Regions from separate parts of the Homo sapiens genome. Here regions 2 and 3 are each linked to region 1. Evidence: fine-mapped expression QTL. A gene starts in region 1. Each other region holds a variant in brackets. All regions are shown on one strand. Distances are between the middles of the regions. Region 1 holds the start of LINC01270 (long intergenic non-protein coding RNA 1270). Region 2 has its middle 7.7 kb from the start of PTGIS. Region 3 holds the start of LOC105372657 (a long non-coding RNA gene).

The links. PIP is the estimated chance that this variant, and not a neighbour inherited with it, causes the effect.
Region 2: its variant is the best candidate, but not a certain one, in a credible set for the expression of LINC01270 in caudate (GTEx, PIP 0.50).
Region 3: its variant is the best candidate, but not a certain one, in a credible set for the expression of LINC01270 in whole blood (INTERVAL, PIP 0.59).

Annotation. Positions count from the first base shown.
Region 1 is chr20:50,291,211-50,293,971 of GRCh38, forward strand. It overlaps LINC01270 (long intergenic non-protein coding RNA 1270), which reads left to right and starts at 1,510. Exons shown (of 5, transcript NR_034124.1): 1 at 1,510-1,620. RefSeq lists an enhancer at 1,063-1,799.
Region 2 is chr20:49,574,490-49,577,250 of GRCh38, forward strand. No RefSeq gene overlaps it. Among named protein-coding and RNA genes, the nearest start is that of PTGIS, 7.7 kb to the left of the region's middle. The variant T/G (reference allele first, on the strand shown) is at 1,179.
Region 3 is chr20:50,350,200-50,352,960 of GRCh38, forward strand. LOC105372657 (a long non-coding RNA gene) reads left to right here and starts at 499. Exons shown (of 3, transcript XR_936837.3): 1 at 499-811. RefSeq lists an enhancer at 256-305. The variant G/T (reference allele first, on the strand shown) is at 1,364.

The DNA of each region.
Region 1 (2,761 bases):
CTGGGGAGTAGTACACGAGAAGAGGAATGGGGAGCCCTAGAGGGTTTTAAGTAGGGGAGGAACGTGGAGTCCATAGCAAGGCAGAGTGGCTGGTGGGGAGGTGGGGAGGATGCCATGGCAACCATTCACGCCAAGCCTCAGCCCCGACCCTCAAGGAGGCAGGCAAGGCTGAGCTTCCCTTTCCAGATTGTTTGTGGGTGCAAAAGGGCAGCAAAGAATGTGGGTGCCTTGTCCTTCTGCCCATGGTCTAGTGTCCTTCCCCTCACCCCAGTCCCAGTGGAGCCATCATAGGTGAAATATAAGAACAAGTCACCTGCGTTCAGTGGCTGCAGAATACCTGGCCTCGCACAGAAGGCTGCGGGGATTTCTGCTCATTCATTCTTCCCACCTGCCGCATGAGGGAGGTGCTATGTCCATTTTACAGAGGACACTGAGTCCCAGAGAGGCTAAGCGGCATGCCCGAGGTTACACAGCCAAGAAGGGGCACAGCAAGATTCAACCCAAAAGTCTGCACTCCAGCCACTGCCCTATCATGACACTCACGAGCTCCCACCAAGTCTGGCTCCAGTGTTTCCAGTACCATAATCATCCCCATTTACCAGATGGGTAAACTGAGGCTCTGAGAGGTGGAGTCACTTGCCTGAGGCCATACAGCAGGAAGGGTAAAAGTAAAGATTTGAATCCCTGGGTCTAGTCGACTCTGGAGCCTGCTGTTCTCCCACCATACACCTCAGCTGCTCGCCCTCCTGGGCATCTGTTTCCTCATCTGATGAACAGGGGTGACGGCGATGCCTCCCTGGCAAGGTCCGCAGAGGATCCCGGGTGGTGTATGTCAATCACCCAGCTCAGTGCCTGGCACTCAGTGGATGCTTTAAACGTGATGCCTGTGTTTATTCGTATAAAGGTGGCTGAATATTAAATGGGTGGATTTATGGAAGGCACTTATGGTAATGCCCTGTACATAATAGATGCTCAAGAAACACTAGAAGCAGTTACTATGATTATAGGATCGACCACAGGGGACAGCCCAGTAACCCCTCAAAGTTGCTTCCTTCCCAAGTTGCCTTCCATTTATTTCTCCCTTCATCCAACACACTGGCCTTAGGGTCCAGGTTAGGATTTGGGGGCTTGGGGGGCTTAGGTTACAATTTGAGGTGATTTGTCCCCCCCTGCCCATCAGTCAGAGTGATGCTGAGAGCACTGGATGATAAGACCAGAATTCTAGGTCCGCGCCCCGGACCTGCTGTGTGATCTCTGGCAACTGCCTTGCCCTCTCTGGGCCTTGGTTTCTCCTTTCATCTGCAGAGCCTGGGCCAGGCTGCCCTGGGAGGTGCCAGCCCCGAATGGGGCCGGGGGCAGTTCCTGTGTCCCCTTGGCCACCAGCCTCCATCTCCTGCCTCTTGAGCTGCAGGCCCGCCCGGCTCAGCTGTGACGACGAACCAGCCAATCTGTTTACTGAACTGGCTGACCCCTTCCGGGAACTCGGCCCAAGCTTCCCAGAACTCGGGTATTAATGACCCGGAGCCACATGACGGAGCATGACACAGCACTTTTGGGCACAAGGCAGGGCCCAGAGGGGTGCGTGGGGGCCGCAGCCCAGCCCCCAAGCCCCGCCAGCGGGTGAGTCACCTGGGCCCCCTGCAGCTTCCTGATCCCGGCCACTCAGCTGTCCTCCCCACCCCCAGGATATCCCCAGTTGTCAGGGCTGCCCTGGGACCCCTCGACCTTTGCACTAGGGACTTAGCAGCCGTCTTGGGTGATCAGGGCTGCCTTCTGGGATTACAGATGGGGACAGTGAGGCCTGCAGGACTGGAGTGAATGAACAGTGAGCTCTGAGTAAACGTCCACTGTGCGGGAGGCACTGTGCAAATACGTCACGTTAGTCTCGCAGCGATGCAACACAGTGGCGTAGTTTAATCCCCATATGATAGATGGGGAAACTGAGGCTCAGAGCGGGAATGAATTCTCCCAAGGGCATGCAACAAGAGCACTCTGTTTGACTGGAAATAATTTCCTTTCGTCTCCTCAGCAGCCGACAAGGGAGGTGCCATGTGGACTGTTTCACAGCTGGAGAAACTGAGGCACAGAGGGGCTGAGTCACCTGCCTAACGCACTGAGCAGTCTGGCTCCAGGACCTGTGCTCTGAACCAGCACCTGGCACATAGCTGGCACCGACATGGTCTCCGTGCACTGCCATGGATGAGAGCAATGCTGGCTGCGGTGTCGGGCGGAGCTGGGTTCCAATGCTGACTTCACCTTTCTCAGGCTGCACAGCCTGGAGCACGTGGCTGCACCCTACCGTGCGTCAGTTTCCTCACCTGTGAAGGGTGATCGTGGTGGTCCTGATCTTGCAGAACTGCAGTGAGGGCTGTGAGTGTGGGGTGTCTCAACTGCACCTGGACACGCAGAAGGCACTCTGTGAACACTGACTTTCATTGGCCCAGGCCTCTGAATCCATGACAGTTCAATCTCTGAACCCCACAGCTTCCTCCTTCACCCTTTGCCGCCCCAGGGCAAGGTGAGGGCGGTGGTTTTTATGGGCCTGGGAACCAGACAGGCTCGGGCTCAGAGGGGGCGCCTGCTGCTGGCGGGAGTGGGGCCTCCTGGTTCCCACTCCCTGATTTTGGGCTGGGGGCCGGTGGTGGGCAGGGGTGGGGCAGCACTTTGATGTTCTTCCCTTCATTCCACCACCACTGCTTGAGCACCTACTGTATGCCAGGCTCCAGGGGACCCAGCAGTGAACAAGGTCTCTGCCCTCACT
Region 2 (2,761 bases), 720 kb before region 1:
CTTCTTAAGCAACAAGAATTGACTAATGTATACTTTATCTCTGAACTTTTTAGAATCCTTTTGGTTGAATGTTCTTTGTACCAGTTAAATTAGAATAGGCTGCTTTCTACTCTTGGAGCCTTGGTACATCTGTACAAGAGGATGATGACGACAAGGCCCCCCTCCCATGGTGGTTGGACGAATTCAAGAAGATCTTGTGTCTAGTGCATGCAGTAGGCACTTAATAAAAGAGATGATGCTAGGCCGGCTGCAGTGGCTCACGCCTGTAATCCCAACACTTTGGGAGGCTGAGGCAGGAGGATCATGAGGTCAGGAGTTCGAGACCAGCCTGGTTAACATGGTGAAACCCCGTCTCTACTAAAAAATACAAAAATTAGCTGGGTGTAGTAGGGGACACCTGTAATCCCAGCTACTCAGGAGGCTGAGGCCGGAAAATCATGTGAAACCAGAAGGGCGGGGGTTGATCGCGCCACTGCACTTCAGCCTGGGCAAAAGAGTGAAACTCTGTCTCAAAAAAAAAAAAAAAAGAAAAGAAAGAGAGATGAAGCAAGGCTGGGCTCAGTGGCTCACGCCTGTAATCCCAGCACTTTGGGAGGCTGAGATGGGTGGATCACTTGAGGTCAGGAGTTCAAGACCAGCCTGGCCAACGTGGTGAAACCCCGTCTCTACTAAAAATACAAAAATTAGCCAGGAATGCTGGCGTGCGCCTGTAATTCCAGCTACTCAGGAGGCTGAGGTGGGAGGATTGCTTGAACCCGGGAGGTAGAGGTTGCAGTGAGCCGAGATTGTGCCACTGCACTCCAGCCTGGGCGACGGAGTGAGACCCTGTCTTAGCAACAACAACAACACAGCAGCAGCAGCAACAGCAACAACAACAAAAGAGATGAAGCATAATTCTTTCAGCACATATTACCAAGTATTTATTTGCCAACACTGTGCAGGCCTCTTTATCAAGAATTTTACTGAAGAAATGAAAGACAGAAAACCTCTTCACTTGGTCTTTTTTATACATGAAGAGAAAGCAGGTCTGAATCAGAGGCAGAGGGTTGGAAGAAATGACCTGTTTTCTGCCATCTGGGCCTTGCTGCTGACTGTCTCTAAGAATTTGCACAGGCCTGGGCCTTTGGAGATTTGAAGGTCTCTAAAGTGCAAGGATGTCAGCTGCAGGGGAGCCATCC[T/G]CCAGCATCCTTCCCCAGGAGAGCCAGGATTATGTAGGGAATGTGCTTGGCTAAGAGCCCAGAGGTGGGGCAGCTACCCAGATGCAAACATGGCTGGGCCAGGCGGCCTTTCGTTCAGCGTTCCCAGGCTAATTCCACCTAGACCTTGTCTTAGCCTGTGAGAGGATGTTCTGGAGTGGTCTTGCCCCTCTTCCCAGGCTATCTGCCAGAGGTGGTGGGTGCTACAGGAGAGGGACTCCAGCAAGCTTCTCATCCTTTGGTTTTCCCAGGACGGGGGACAGGTGGCCTCACGGCTCCCAACCAGCTGCCTTGGCACTTTGTAGTGGAAAAAATGATGAAGTCAGACCTCAGTCTCCTCAACTCCCTGCTGTCCTGCCTGAGAGCCAGCCTAGCATGGAAGGCAAGGAGAAAAGAGACCCATGTTGATCTGTCACCCAGACAGACCCTGAGTGATGATGCTCCTGCCACCCTGAAGCACCCCAAGAACCTCAGAACTTCTGGCTTCTCATCTTGAAAATGGGACAGCAGTCATAGCTGCTTTGCTTATTATGTCAAGGAGTTACTAAAGAGGATCCAGTTAGATAGTGGGGGTAGAAAAATGGCTGCCTAAGGCCACATTTACCCTCTCCTTCTAGAAATTATACCAGAGCATCAAGAATAATGGAAAAACAAATATACAAAACCAAACCACAAACTCCATTTTTAGCAAAGCCAGGAGAGACATATAATTCATCGGCTTCAGAGTACGTGTGAAGCAGCTAAGACAGGGCAGAAGCCACATGGGAGTGGTGAGTGGGCTCAGTGATAGCAAATCTCAGAAAGCATCAGCAAAACTACACTTCCTAGGGATGAGGGCTTGCCATGAGATGAAAGTTATGTTCCTTCTTTATAAAAATGAATGTAGAAGCTTGGGTGAATACGATTAGCAGCAGAAGCTCTCCTGGATCTCGTTTGGTTCAGAGAAACAGAGGAGGTATAGTGAAGAATTACAGAGAGAAGACATATTTGCAGGAAGCAGTCTGTCTCTATGGCAGCAGAGGAGAGCCACAGTTACAGAGCCCATGAAGCTACCCTAATTCTTCCTTACACCCATAGGAGCAATCAGCAAAATACCTGACCCAGGAAAACCAAGCCCTTCCAATGACAAGCTTTTGAAAAAGTGTAAAAGCCTTGATACAAAGATATTATGATAAATTATGAAGAGCAGAAAAATCTACCAATAGATGAAAGTGTTAACACAAAATGGATGAAAATTATATCCAAATCATATTGGCATAAATTCAAAAAAGAATTGAATGGAGGCTGGGTGTGGTGGCTCACGCCTGTAATCCCAGCACTTTGGGAGGCCGAGGCAGGTGGATCACCTGAGGTCAGGAGTTCAAGGCCAGCCTGGTCAACATGATACTCTCGAGGCTGAGGCAGGAGATCGCTTGAATGTGGGAGGCAGAGGTTGCAGTGAGCTGAGATCATGACATTGCACTCCAGCCTGGGCAACTAGTGAAACTCCGTCTCAAATTTAAAGAAAGAAAGAAAGAAACATCTTAGGAGAACTGAATGGAGCAACTACCTCTGTGAAGGAGGAC
Region 3 (2,761 bases), 59 kb after region 1:
CCAGCCTGGGCAAGAAGAGTGAAACTCCGTCTCAAAAAAATAAAAATAAAAATAAATAAATGTATCACCAGCTCCATCCATTCATCAGACACATGTTTCCATAGTAGATACCTTGTGCCTGGAAGGTTCTTCTTACGAGGGACATGGGAGTGAACAAACAGGTAAGGTCCCCTCCCCCCTGGAACTTGTAGTCCAGTGAACACAATCAATCCATTTAGGACTTGAACATTTGAAATTGAGACTTCCCTGTACCTATAATTATCAGAACTGTATGAGATCCTGAGGTGGAAAGATGGTGACTTCTGTGGGCTTTTTTGCTCAAACACAATTCTTTAAGAAAGAGACCTGCATCTCGGGCTGCCCACCGCAGTGTGAGGATGTGAGAAAGACCCAGGGACCTCACAGACCATGTGATGTCACAGAAGGCACAGGACTGCCAGGTGCAGTGGGTCACACTGTAATCCCAGCACTTTGGGAGGCAAACATGGGGGTGTCGCTTGAGGTCAGGAGTTCAAGACCAGCCTGAGCAACACAGCAAGACTCTGTCTCTGCAAAAAACCAAAAACCAAAACCACAGGGCGGGGAGGTCAGACCAGCTGCCTGGAATCCCAGCCCAGACCCTCACCAGCATGTGACCCAGGACGGGCCACGTGCTGTCTCCTCAGGAAGCCTCAATTTTCTCATCTGGAGACAGGGACAATGAATCCCTTCCAGGATCACTGTGAAAAGACAGGTTGAGCATCTCTAATTCGCAAATCTGAAATCCGAAATGCTCCCAAATCTGAAACTTTCTGAGTGCGGACCTGATGCCGTAAGTGAAAGCCCGCGGTTTTCTGTTGTCGCTGTTGTTTCACGGCTGAGCCCCCTATCTGCTGATATCGCTGTTCTGCTTGGTCGCCCTGAACTCCTTATTTTCCCACTGTATTAATGCTATGTCATACTTTTTACCATGGAGTACTTATGTGTGAGTAAGTGTGAGACAATGATTGCTTATTGATAGCATATAAATTCAGAGTCAGGAATAAGGGTGATGCCAAACAACCACAGATTGTCCACGTGGGTAACTGAGATAGGTGTGGGACGCCTTTCTTTCTGTTGGTGCGATGCACACAAAATTTGTTTCATGCACAAAATTATTAAAAATTATGTACAATTGCATTCAGGCTGTGTGTATAAGGTTTGTATGAAACATAAGTAAAGGTCATGTTCAGATTTGGGTCCCATCCCTAAGATATCTCATTGTGTATATGCAAATATTCCAAAATTTGGAAAATATAAAAATCCAAAAGACTTCTGGTCCTAAGCATTTTGGATAAGGGATCCCTTAGACGGTACCCTGTGTCAATGTGGGATATACTATGTA[G/T]GAAAATGTATTCGTGGTTCAACCCCCAGTCGGCCTGAGGGAAAGTCGATTCCAGAAAGGCCAAGTGATGAAAGTTCTTCATCTTTGTGGACCTCATCTGGGCTCAAACACATATTACAGACCTCAGTGTCAAAGGAGCCCTGAAGTCCCTTCAACAAGGGTTGGCTGGGTGAGGACTGTGGCGGCCTGGAGGGTAGCTGCGACTCAGCCTCCACGGGGAACGCATCCCAGTCATGCCAAAAAGCCATCTTCCTCAAGAGAAGCCAGAGATCCAGATTTTGATAGAAACTCTCCCAATTTTTAGGCCAGGCGCAGTGGCTCACACCTGCCAGCACTTTCGGAGGCTAAGGCGGGCAGATCACCTGCGGTCAGGAGTTCAAGACCAGCCTAGCCAACACGGTGAAACCCTGTCTCTACTAAAAATACAAAAAAAAAAAAAAAAATTAGCCAGGTGTGGTGGCCTGTGATCCCAGCTATTCGGGAGGCTGAGGCAGGGGAATCCCTTGAATCCAGGAGGCAGAGGTTGCAGTGAGCTGAGATCATGCCACTGCACTCCTGCCTGGACAACAGAGAGAGACTGAGTCTCAAAAAAATAAAAATAAAAAAATAAGAAACTGTCCCAGTTTTTAAACGTTTGCCACTAATGACGGCAAAGCATTGGCCTGCCACCTTGCACCTTCTGGGATGGCAAATGATCAAAAACACAGACACTAGCAAATGTTGGTGGGGGTGTGAGCAGCTAGAACTCTCATATCTTGCTGGCGGGATTGTAAAGAGGTACAGCCGATTTGGAAAACAGTCCAGCAGTTCCCCAAAAGTGTAGATTGAGTTACCACATGACCCAGACATTCCACTTCTAGGTATATACCCAAGAGATACAGAAGTATATGTCTGCGCAAAAACTTACACACAAATGTTCACAGCAGCACAATTCATTACAGCTGCACAGTGAAAACAGCTCCAATGGCCATCACTGGATGAATGGGTGAACCCCATGTGGTGGGTCCATACAATGGGATATTAGTTGGCAATAAAAATAATGAACGACAAACTCATGCTACAGTGTGAATGAACCTCGAAAACGTGGTGCTGAGTGAAAGAAGCCAGACACAAAAGGCCACATAGGGCACGATTCCATTCCTAGGAAATGCCCAGAAGTGGCAGATCTGTAGAAACAGCAAGTAGATTGGTGGTTTGGGGAGGCTGGGATGAGGGCATATGGGGAGTAGGCATGGGATACGGGGCGTTTTGGGGAGGTGGTGAAAATGTTCTAAAATTGATTGTGGTGATGGTTGCACAACTCTGTGAATGTACTTAAAACCATTGAATTGTACATTTTTACAGCGCGAATTTTATGGTAGGTGAATTATATTTTGATAGAGCTGTTAAAATACAAAA